2 separate regions of the Homo sapiens genome follow, and region 1 is linked to region 2. Evidence: fine-mapped QTL for protein levels in blood plasma. A gene starts in region 2. The other region holds a variant in brackets. All regions are shown on one strand. Distances are from middle to middle. Region 1 overlaps LOC107986449 (a long non-coding RNA gene). Region 2 holds the start of CSF2 (colony stimulating factor 2).

The links. A credible set is the group of variants that fine-mapping cannot tell apart. PIP is the chance, under the fine-mapping model, that this variant and not a neighbour inherited with it causes the effect. The UK Biobank Pharma Proteomics Project read protein levels with antibody pairs (Olink). The fine-mapping took linkage between variants from a reference panel, not from the people measured, so its PIPs are less certain.
Region 1: its variant is the best candidate, but not a certain one, in a credible set for the plasma level of the CSF2 protein (UK Biobank, PIP 0.62).

Annotation. Positions count from the first base shown.
Region 1 is chr5:130,801,521-130,806,896 of GRCh38, reverse strand. All of the region lies in intron 3 of LOC107986449 (a long non-coding RNA gene), which reads left to right. Among named protein-coding and RNA genes, the nearest start is that of HINT1, 360 kb to the left of the region's middle. The variant A/C (reference allele first, on the strand shown) is at 2,916.
Region 2 is chr5:132,069,412-132,074,732 of GRCh38, reverse strand. It overlaps CSF2 (colony stimulating factor 2), which reads right to left and starts at 944. Exons shown (of 4, transcript NM_000758.4): 1 at 751-944; 2 at 611-652. The coding sequence starts at 909.

The DNA of each region.
Region 1 (5,376 bases), 1.3 Mb after region 2:
CATGTCATTCCATCCCTGGCCCCTCCCAAATCTCATGTCCTCACATTTCAAAACACAATCATGCCCTTCCAACAGTCCCCAAAGTCTTAACTCATTTCAGCATTAACCAAAAAGTCCAAGTCCAAAGTCTCATCTGAGAAAAGACAAGAACCTTTCATGTATGAGCCTGTAAAATCAAAAGCAAGTTAGTTACTTCCTAGATACAATGGGTGTACAGGCATTGGGTAAATATGACCATTCCAAATGGGAGAAAGTAGCCCAAACAAAGGGGCTACAAGCCCCCTGCAAGTCTGAAATCCAACAGGGCAGTCAGTAAAACTTAAAGTTCCAAAATGATCTCTTTTGATTCCATGTCTTACATCCCGGTCACACTGATGCAAGAGGTAGGCTCCCACAACCTTGGGCAGCTCTGTCCCTGTGGCTTTGTAGGGTACAGCCCCACTCCTGGCTGTTTTCACAGGCTGGCATTGAGTGCCTGTGGCTTTTCCAGTTGCAAGGTGCAAGCTGTTGATGGATGTACCATTCTGGGGTCTGGAGGATGGTGACCCTCTTTTCACAGACCCTCTAGTGAGTGGTCTGTGAGTGGTCTAGTGAGAGTCCCCAGTGGGGACTCTTGTGGGGGCTCCAACCCCACATTTCCCTTCTGCACTGCTGTAGCAGAGGTTCTCCATGAGGGTTCCACCCCTGCAGCAAACATCTGCCTGGACATCCAGGAATTTCCATACATCCTCTGAAATCTAGGCAGAGGTTCCCAAACCTCAATTCTCGACTTCTGTGCACCCACAGAAGACCACATGAAAGCTGCCAAGGCTTGGGGCTTTCGCTCTCTGAAGCAATGGCCCAAGCTGTACCTTGGCCCCTTTTAGCCATGGCTGGAGTTGAAGCACATGGAACACAGGGCACTGTGTCCCGAGGCTGCATAGAGCAGTGGGGCCCTGGGTCTGGCCCACAAAACCATTTTCCCTCCTGGGCCTCCTGGCTTGTGATGGGAGGGGCTGCTGTGAAGGTCTCTGACATGCCCTGGAGACATTTTCCTTACTGTCTTGCTGATTAATATTTCACTCCTTGTTAGTTATACAAATTTCTGCAGCCAGCTGGAATTTCTCCCCAGAAAATGGGCTTTTCTTTCATATTGCATCATCAGGCTGCAAATTTTTCAAACGTTTATGCTTTGCTTCCTTTTGAATGCTCTGTGCTTTGTCACTAAGAAATTTCTTCTGCCAGATTACCCTATATCTTCTTTCTTGAGTTCAAAGTTCCACAGTTCTCTATGGCAGGGTCAAAATGCCACCAGTCTCTTTGCTAAAGCATAGCAAGAGAGACCTTTGCTCCAATTCCCAACAAGTTCCTCATCTCCATCTGAGACCACCTCAGCCTGGACTTCATTGTCCCTATCACTGAGAATTTAATCAATTAAATCAATACTGGGCAAAGCGTGTCTATGGTAGTAATGGAAGCAGGTAAGGCTACTATGTACCTAATAGTCAGATGTTATCTTTATGATAATGGTGAACTTTTGAAAGTTATTTGAAAATGTCCTTTCTAAAGAAATTTCCATGAATCTAAAAATAGTAAGGCTAAGAAATGCTTTTGTTTACATATACAAGAGCAGAATTAGATGTGATCATAATAAGTAAATGTGGTGTTAAAATGGCAGTCTTGCTCCTTGAGAGGAAAAGGCATTGGAACAGCCATTTTTAATGTGTCTTTTACTTAAATGTTGCCAAAAATTCTTCCATCCAAGTACATGTCCTTTTGCAAATGATTAAGCAATTAATTACTCTTCTCTACCATATCTGCTAAGTTAAATGTCACATTGATTGAGAGATTTTGAATTGTTTTATGCAGCTTTCTCAATCAGATCATATGTGGTTTTTATAAAATGGTGTATTCTTTTTGACATTGTACTTACCTTTTAGAAAAGTCATAAAAGCGGAAAAAACTGATGAGGTTTGAGGCTTTTGGTTCATTGTATCTTTGTGGAGTCTTGACCCATATTCTCATGGAGCTAGAGGATAATTAATGTTTCCTGTGATTTATGATATCCACCTCTAGGAAACTACAAGAAATTATTCTTCCCTGCTACCACTCTCTGTTCTCTGTCTGCAGATATGTTGAAAGAAATGTAGCTTTTGCTCATAAATTTCATCATTTGAGATTGTTATTTCAGTTGAGTATTATCAGAAAGCATTTCTAATAATTAACTCTTGTTGCATACCTGTAATCAGAAAGGGACCTTCTTCACTTCACTGCACTGCTGTGCTGCAGGATATTAAGCTGGCAAGCATGAAAATAGCTTTGTGAACAGCTGGGCTCATCACAGTGAAGCTTGAGATCAAAGCTGCCAAAAATGGAGGGCGCTTATATTCACCAACCCAAAAGAGATGGTTTTGGCCTTGAGAGAACATTGCTGAGCATAGGAACAACAGATTAATGGGAAAACTGTTGATAAAGCAGTAACTATCATCCTTGAACTATTTAATCCACTGAAACAATTGAATGACTTCTTAATCCTTAATCATTTTAAATGATTCAGACCTGTTGAATAGAGGTGAGATTATCTGCCTCTTATCAACTCTCATAAAATATTTTACACAAAGTGAACCAAATTGCATGCAACATAGGACTATGTGATTAAAATGCACTTAAGTGCTCACCCTTACAATGCCATCCAGATACATTCTAGGAGAGCAAAATGTTCTGAAAAATATTCAGGTGCCCTTGAAAGAATGAACAGTGAACATATTGTCATTAGGAAAATTTAGCCTCCTGTGAGATAACTTTCAAAATATTATCAATAATGGATACTGCCATCAGAACTATCTCCCTAAAATATATTAGACTATTTTTACTATCCTATGCTCTGTGTTCAGTTGCTTAAAAAATTAAATTCAAAAGTGTTTGGCATTCAAAGC[A/C]GTTTATGCTAGCACCTCAGGTTACCTCTTCAGCCAATTCTCCCACTACTCCACTGTGTGTATTCTGACCTAGTATTCTGTCATATTTTCTATTTCCTAATAATGTTAGATAATTCCAGATTTCCTTATATGGCTATACTGATCTCTCAACTTGCAATGCTTTCTCTATATTTTTTTACAGTTAAAAAAATATTGAAGGCATTGCTCAAATGCAACATTCTCTTTTAAACTTTCCTGGATTCTCACAATTAGAATATATATATATTTTTTGTTCCAGGCTCTTATAATGCTTGTATTTCCATTTTTAATGCTTGTATTTCCATTTTGACTTGCATTGTGGGTAGTTTTTACTGTTTCTCCCAAATATTTGAGTCTCTGTGTGTAGGGCCTATGAGTAATTCAACTTGTGTTACCCAGAGCTTAGCAATTAATCAGAATTTATTTATTGGTCATTGATATGGTTTAGCTGTGTCCCCAACCAAATCTCATCTTGAATTCTAACTCCCACAATTCCCACATGTCATGGGAGGAACCCAGTGGGAAGTGATTGAATTATGGGGGCAGATTTTCCTGCGCTGTTCTCATGACAGTGAATGAGTCTCATGAGATCTGATGGTTTTAAAAATGGGAGTTTCTATGCACAAGCTCTTTTTGCCTTGCTGCCATCCATCCAAAATGTGACTTGCTCCTCCTTGCCTTCTGCCTTGATTGTGAGGCTTCTCCAGTCATGTGTAGGTATGAGTTCTCCATTAAGCCTAATTCCTTTGTAAATTGCCTAGTCTCAGGTATGTCTTTATCAGCAGCATGAGAACAGACTAATACGGTCATTCTTTGCAAGATGCTACTTGCTTTGGATACAAATATGAAAAGACATGGTCCCTTGCGTGTGTTATGTGCTTATGAAATACATGTTGAGTTGACTGATTAATGAGAGAAAGGTCTGAGTTCTCCACCTCTGATAATGAGTTGCCACTGTTATAGTTCTAGAAAATCTGATAAACAGAGTGAAGATATTTTAAAATACTGACAGTTCTTGTGAAGAAAATCAGTGAGGTTGAGATATGTCAAGATAGAACATTAACTTCCTAAGTTTGAGCTTTGCTATAGCTGCTTTGTGTCATGATTTAACAAGGAGAATCATCTTCTTATTTTGTCTGAGTCTTAAAGGACACAGCTTTGAAGCCTTTTCTATGGATGGTTGGATACTATCAGTTTCACATGTAATATGTAGGCACATTTATAGAGCTTTGAATTTGTGGAGTCTTTTAAAAAACTGATTGTGATCAATATTCACATTCTTCCAAAAGCTCAAGAGCCTCCATTGAAAAGCCCCCTGATATATAAAAGATATAAATTTGAGTACTAATTATAGCTGAGCAGTTAGTTTGGGAATATGGTATAGAAAGCCTTGATTCTCTAACTAAAAATTTTGAATTTTTAATTAGCAGTAACAAAACACTGAAAGTTCCAAGTAGTTGAATGACTTAATGTCCATTGTGTACGATGCATGTTAAATGTGCTGAAGTAAGGTGGATATGTTGGCTGCACAATAAGTGATTGAAGATTAGAGACCAGATATAAATATAGCTTCATTATTGGTGATAGATGATGAGAACCATGGTGAAAGTTACTTTGGAAATGAAAAAGACAGCGCAGTGTTGTCAGAACCAATTTGGAAGATTTATCAATAGAATCTAGTGATTGATGAGAGACATGGGGAGGAGGGAAAAATGTAATAAAGATGATAGGCCTGCATGCCTGGGAGCACCTTTTATGAGGGAACATAGGAGGAGGAAGATAATTGGAGAATGAGAGATTGCGCAACCAGCATGACCTAGGTTGTTTCAATAATGTTAACTTCCAAATCTCAGTGGATTAAAATGTAGTAACAAATATTTATTTCATGTTGTTACTGTGTGTTTATTTTGTCCTGGCTGGCATTTCTGCTCCACATTTTCCTCACTCTGGGGCCCAGGCTGACAGATCAACCACTGTCTGGAAAGTTACTAGTTGCTTTGGCCCAGGTAGAGGGAGAATTTGAGGGTCTAGCATCAGAAATTACTACAGCCTGGAAGTGAGAGTGGCAAATTTAAACCATTGTCAGGTGACACTATCTTCTTCTAATGCCAGTCAAATGGGATATTTCCTGTTCATTGCTTATGGCCTCACCCCTGATTTATTTCCCCCAGCCTTATTGAGGCATAATTTACAAATAACAACTGTATATTTTTAAGGTGCAAAACATGGTGTTTTGATGTGTGTACACATTGGGAAATGATTACCACAATCAAGCTAATGAACATATTTATCATCTTACGTAATTAACTTTTTTTTGTAGTGAGAACACTTAAGATCTACTCTCTTAGCTCATTTTAAGTATACAATGCAGTATTATTAACTGTGGTCACCATGCTATACATTAGATCTCCAGATGTATTCATTTTGTATAATGGAAATTTTA
Region 2 (5,321 bases):
GCTGCTGCCCCCAGCCCCCAGGAGTAGGGCTTGGGAGGGGCACAGGCTGGGTCCAGTCATAGACCCTGCCCTGTCCATGGCAGGCACGAACCTGCCCTTCTCACTGCCCCGCCCAGGCCACCCTCAGCGGCACCTGGAGAGGAGCCCAGCCTTAGGGAAGGAGGTGACTCTCACCCCATCATTCAGGGAGAGGGGGGTGGGGCCTCACCTGGACCTGCTGGGTGGGCAAGGGTTGTTCCTGAAACCCCTCTGTGCCTCTCTGTAGTCAGCACTGTCTCAACAGGACTTGGTCTCGGGGCACAGTGAGCGCCCCAAACCCACAGCTCCTGTCTCATGAAGTGACCCCCACTTTACCACCTGTCCCCTGGTGACTCCTGGCCATTGAATGCTAGGTCTGCCCATGGCCGCTCAGCTGATAAAGGAGCTCATGTGACTGCCATAGGGGCACGGCCAGCAGCCTCTTGAGCACCCAGTTGCTACCCCCTCCTCCTGCAGCCAGCTGACTGGAGAGAAAGTGGACAACCCTGTGTGGTGCCATCTAAAATGGAGTCCCCACCTCCACCCCAGGGCAGGGGCTTCTGGAAAGCTATGTCAGAGAGAAGCATCTTACCTGGAGGTCAAACATTTCTGAGATGACTTCTACTGTTTCATTCTGTAGAAAAGGAAAATGTCATGTTATCAAGCTGACAGGCGTGGCCAGTCAGGGGCCAGCTGGGTGGCCTAGGCACAGGCCCACATTCTCTCACTTACCATCTCAGCAGCAGTGTCTCTACTCAGGTTCAGGAGACGCCGGGCCTCCTGGATGGCATTCACATGCTCCCAGGGCTGCGTGCTGGGGCTGGGCGAGCGGGCGGGTGCAGAGATGCTGCAGGCCACAGTGCCCAAGAGCAGCAGGCTCTGCAGCCACATCCTCCAGAGAACTTTAGCCTTTCTCTCTGTGTACTGGGCTCACTGGCAAAAGAGCTCTTAAATACACAGAGGAAATGATTAATGGTGACCACAAAATGCCAGGGAGGCGGGGGAACTACCTGAACTGTGGAATCTCCTGGCCCTTATCAGCCACACATGGGAACGGTGAGCCTTTTCCCTAGGTGGTCAGGCTTGGGGGTTTTCATTAATGAACCTTTCCAAGAACCGACAGCCCACCCACCCGCCTTCCTGAGGGCTCTCCAGCCCTCCCTGGGCAGTCTGAATGGGCCTGAGGCTGCCCCCTCCCTCTGAGGGGCACAGTTTGGACTTCCTGGCCTGGAATGGCTGGGGTGGGGCGTGGGAGACACTTAGATAGGGCTCCCCATCCTGCCTGTAATCCCAGGGGCCTTTGGGCAGGCTATGCCCGCCCTGGTGCCTCATTCTGACTCCAGCCTTCCTCTTCTCTGGCCACTGTGAGAGACTTGAGTGTGAGGGGAGCTCTCACAGACCTGCCCCACTGACAGTTCACATGGGCTCCCACCCAGGACCTGGAGCAGGGGGCAACCTCAGTCCAGTAAGGGGGGACCCCTGCCCCTGTGAGCAGAGGGAATGACCACCATGTGCACATCCAGCAGCGAGACTGCAGCCACTCTCAGCAAGCTTCAGAGGGGGTGTGGCTGGGTCAAGTCGGGACCCAGAGTCTGACTCTTGGCTCTGGAGCCACCTTCCTGAGTGACTCCCCTCTCTGGTTATGTGAACCTTGATTCCCTCTGCAGAGCAGGTTTGCCCCTCTGAGGTTCGGACTACACTCCTATATGTAGCCCCCAGAAGACACCAGGAGCTTCAGGCTGGCTCCAGGGCTGTGGCTGCATCCATCTCAGGTACAGGGACAATGGCTTCCCCAGCAAGGCCCTCCAGGCTTAATTTCCTACATAACCCCAGCATCCCCCAACTCCAGAGGCCTTTCTGTGGAAGTGTGGAAGTAGGAAATCTAAAGGCTCTTGAGGGGCTGACAAGTGTTTGATTTTCACAATGGAGTTCAGAGAAGACAGCACGAGTTTGTGTTTGCACAAGGTATCTGGCTCAAGCTGCCCCATGCCTGGGTTTCATAGCTAAAGGGGTGTGGGCCCACACGTGCCCATTTCTGGGTGTATGTGTGCTGCTGTGATTGGTTGTACATACAGGTGCCTGGTAGAGGGGAGGATGTTTTCCATGCAGATGCATCTATTGAGTCCTCTTACCTGCTTTATGAAAGGCTCCAGGCCTCTGAAGGTGACTCTGATACTGGAGAAGCTCCCTACTCCAGGTGCAGTGCCTCTGGGCCCTAGAGGCTGATTCAGCCTAAACCAGTGGGGTTGGACACAAGCGAGAACATTCTGCTGGACTCAGGTTGGCGAGCCTTCAGAGAGCAGGTGGAGTTCATGGCTTTAGCACTGTGGTCTGAGTCTGCAGCCCTGGCCAGTTTCCCTGTACTGTGGGAGTTTTTCTGACCTTGCATAGAGAAACCAAACCTTAGTCCTCCAGACCCCACTGTGAGGCCAGCCCCATCCATCTGAGCCTGCGTAGAACACTCCTAGTGGCCAGGCTGGGGTGGGAACATGAAATGTCCAGGCCCTGGCCCTTTCTCCACCTTTTTTGCAAGGCCTTGGCTCAGCTCTTTCCAGGGAGCTCTCGGGGGAGAGATGAGGACATGGATACTACATGTAGATATCACATGTGTTGGATAGCACCCTGGAGGCTGGAGGGCAGGGAAGGGAGCCATAGATAGTGGTTCAGCTGATGGCCAGGGAGGCAGAGAGCCTGTATGACCCATCTGGGAGAGAAGGTCACTTTCCTCCTAGAAATGAGTTGTCATAGCTCAGACAGTCAGTCAACAAGTCTTTCCAATCCACACCAGGACCTGTTCTGGGGAGGTAAACGGGACCCTCCCACTGGCCCTCACATTTGGCCCTTGAGGCTCCCAGTCTGGTAGGAAACAGACTGCAATGGACCCTCCCATGGTGTGACCTTGACTCGGCAGGGGGAAGTCCAGAGCTGAGGGATCCCAGAGGGCCACCTTCTCTAGCTTGGGGATCCAAGGGGACCAGAGAGCTTCACTAGAGATCCTGCCTGCAAGCCCAGGCTGAAAGGCTAGAAGTCAGGTGGGTACGTTGGGTTGGAAGGAGAGGGGCAGGAGAGGACAGGGGAGAATGTTCTGGGCACAGGGAGCCCTGGGGTTTTAGGAATGGGTATAAGGAACAGCAGGCAGACTCCAGAGAGATTGAGGAGGTAGAATCTCAACAGGACTTGGTGCTATAGTGAAGTCACTCAGTCATTCATTATTTTTTGAGCATCTACTAGGTTCCCAGCAGGGAAAAGGGACATAAGGATGACAAAAACGGTCAGGGTCCTGCCTCCAAGGACTTTTTAACCCCATCCATGGAGGAGCAAGATTAGTCTACTCACCCCCCTCCCCCCCCACCAAAGTGTGCTTTGAATGTGAGTAAGAGGAGTTAGAATCACTGTCCACATGGCTAAGGTGAGGACCCAGGGGACAAAGGAGCAGATCTTCAGAGCGTGAGGCCCACGGGAAGTTTTGGAGTTTCAGAGTCTGCATGTACAGGAGACAGATCTGGCAGCGGTACATGTCTGTGTGGTAGCTGAGGCCACGGAAGTTATTCAGGAAGAAGAGCTGAGGGCCAGCAAAGCTGTGTTTAAGGGCTGGGACATAACAGATGGGCAAGTAACAGGCCAGTGGCCAAGGGCCTAGGAGGGAAGGAAAGGAGGAAAGCAAGAGTCATAATAAGAAATCCATTTCGGCAGTGGTGGCCTGCAGGTGCCCAAGTCAGCACAAACAGGACAGAAATCCATGGGTTTGGTGATGAGGTTTGTGGGCAGCCACACATCTTTCTCATGGAAAGATGACATCAGGGCTGAGGCCATGACACAGGCAGGCATTCCTAGATTGCACTGTATTTTAAACAGTGTCAACCGATAGCCAGCCATGCTGACTCAGGGGCTCCGATGGGGCTGTGGCAGGGCAGAGGCGGGGACCACGATGGGTGGTATGACCCCTCTGGGGCCCCCCTTCCTACAGAGACAGGAGAAAACCCTCTGGAAGGAGTTTCCTATGCGTGTCCACCCCACAGGCTCTGTAGGAAACAGGGGCTTGAGTCACTCCAGGATCCTTATCACGAGAGACATTATCACAAGGGGAAGGAAATGGGCCTCAAAGTCCCTTCGGTACCATGGCACCCCCGCACAGGCTTTGGGGCTGATCTGATCCTTCTTTGACCTGTCCAACCCTTGATGAGGGTTCTTGTTATCTCTGGGGACCTGAGATCTGGGAGACCAGTGGTCAGCCCAGTCCACACAATCAGTGACCGCAGAACCAGAATTTGAACCCATATCTGTTCCTGCTATCCTAGCATTTTCCATTGTCTTGGGGTCAGGAAGTTGGGAAATGCTGATCACCTGGCTGGACCAGCAGGGGGTGGACCCAGCGTGCTTGTCCCCTCAAGGCAGCTGTAAAGAGAGATGCCTGCCAGGTGTTCGCAGGTAGGCTGGAGTGGCCTGTGACTGTCCCAGGGAAGTCTGGGCTGAAGGCAGAGTTTCCCCAGCAGATCCTGCCATCCAGGCATCTCTATGCCCCAGGCTTGGGCTCTTGCCCTTACCCAGCCACCACCAATCCCTGAAGCCTAGGAAAGTCCCTCCTCCCTGAGCCTCAACCCCTGCATCTGTACAATGGGTTAATGGCCACTGCCTCACCGAGGAAACTGTTGCCTGCCCCAGGAAACTCTGTGGGAGATCCTCCCAGGGAAGAGACAATCCTTCAATTTCTCCTCTGCCCAGTGCTAGGGGAGATTTCTGAAGCCCAAACTGGGCAGAGGAGCGAGGCCTGCTGGAGTTTCCAGGGACAGCTGCCCCTTGCCCAGCCCTAGCCGCAGAGGGCAACCTTCTGGACACACGTGGTGAGGTAGGGAGTCCGGCCTCCACCTGAGTCAGGGCTCCTGGGTCCTGCATCACCGACAGGAGATCCTGGTACCGCATGGCACCATGAGTGGTTTGTCCTTCCCTTGTCACTCCAGGCCACACCAGACATATGAAGCAACATCTCTGGCTTCTGCGGTTTCAGCCCCATTCTGTCCCCACGTGCATCCCCTCTGTCTCGGTCCCCAAATGTACACCTCAAAAAGGGAAGCTGCCCTCGCCAAGCTCCAATTCCAGTTTGGCCTCTTGGTATTCCCAGGTTCCTGGCACTGGGGAGTGCCAGGGAGGCCTGGGAGGATCTGAGGGTGGTTAACCCTCAACCACATGTGGTCTCTGCATCTATTCAGCCAAGCTTCCGGGAGGGTTTGCTGCGGAGTACGCACCTCACAGGCCCCTTGCACTCGGAGAGCTCACTTCTGGTGGTCCCATGGGGTGGGGGACAG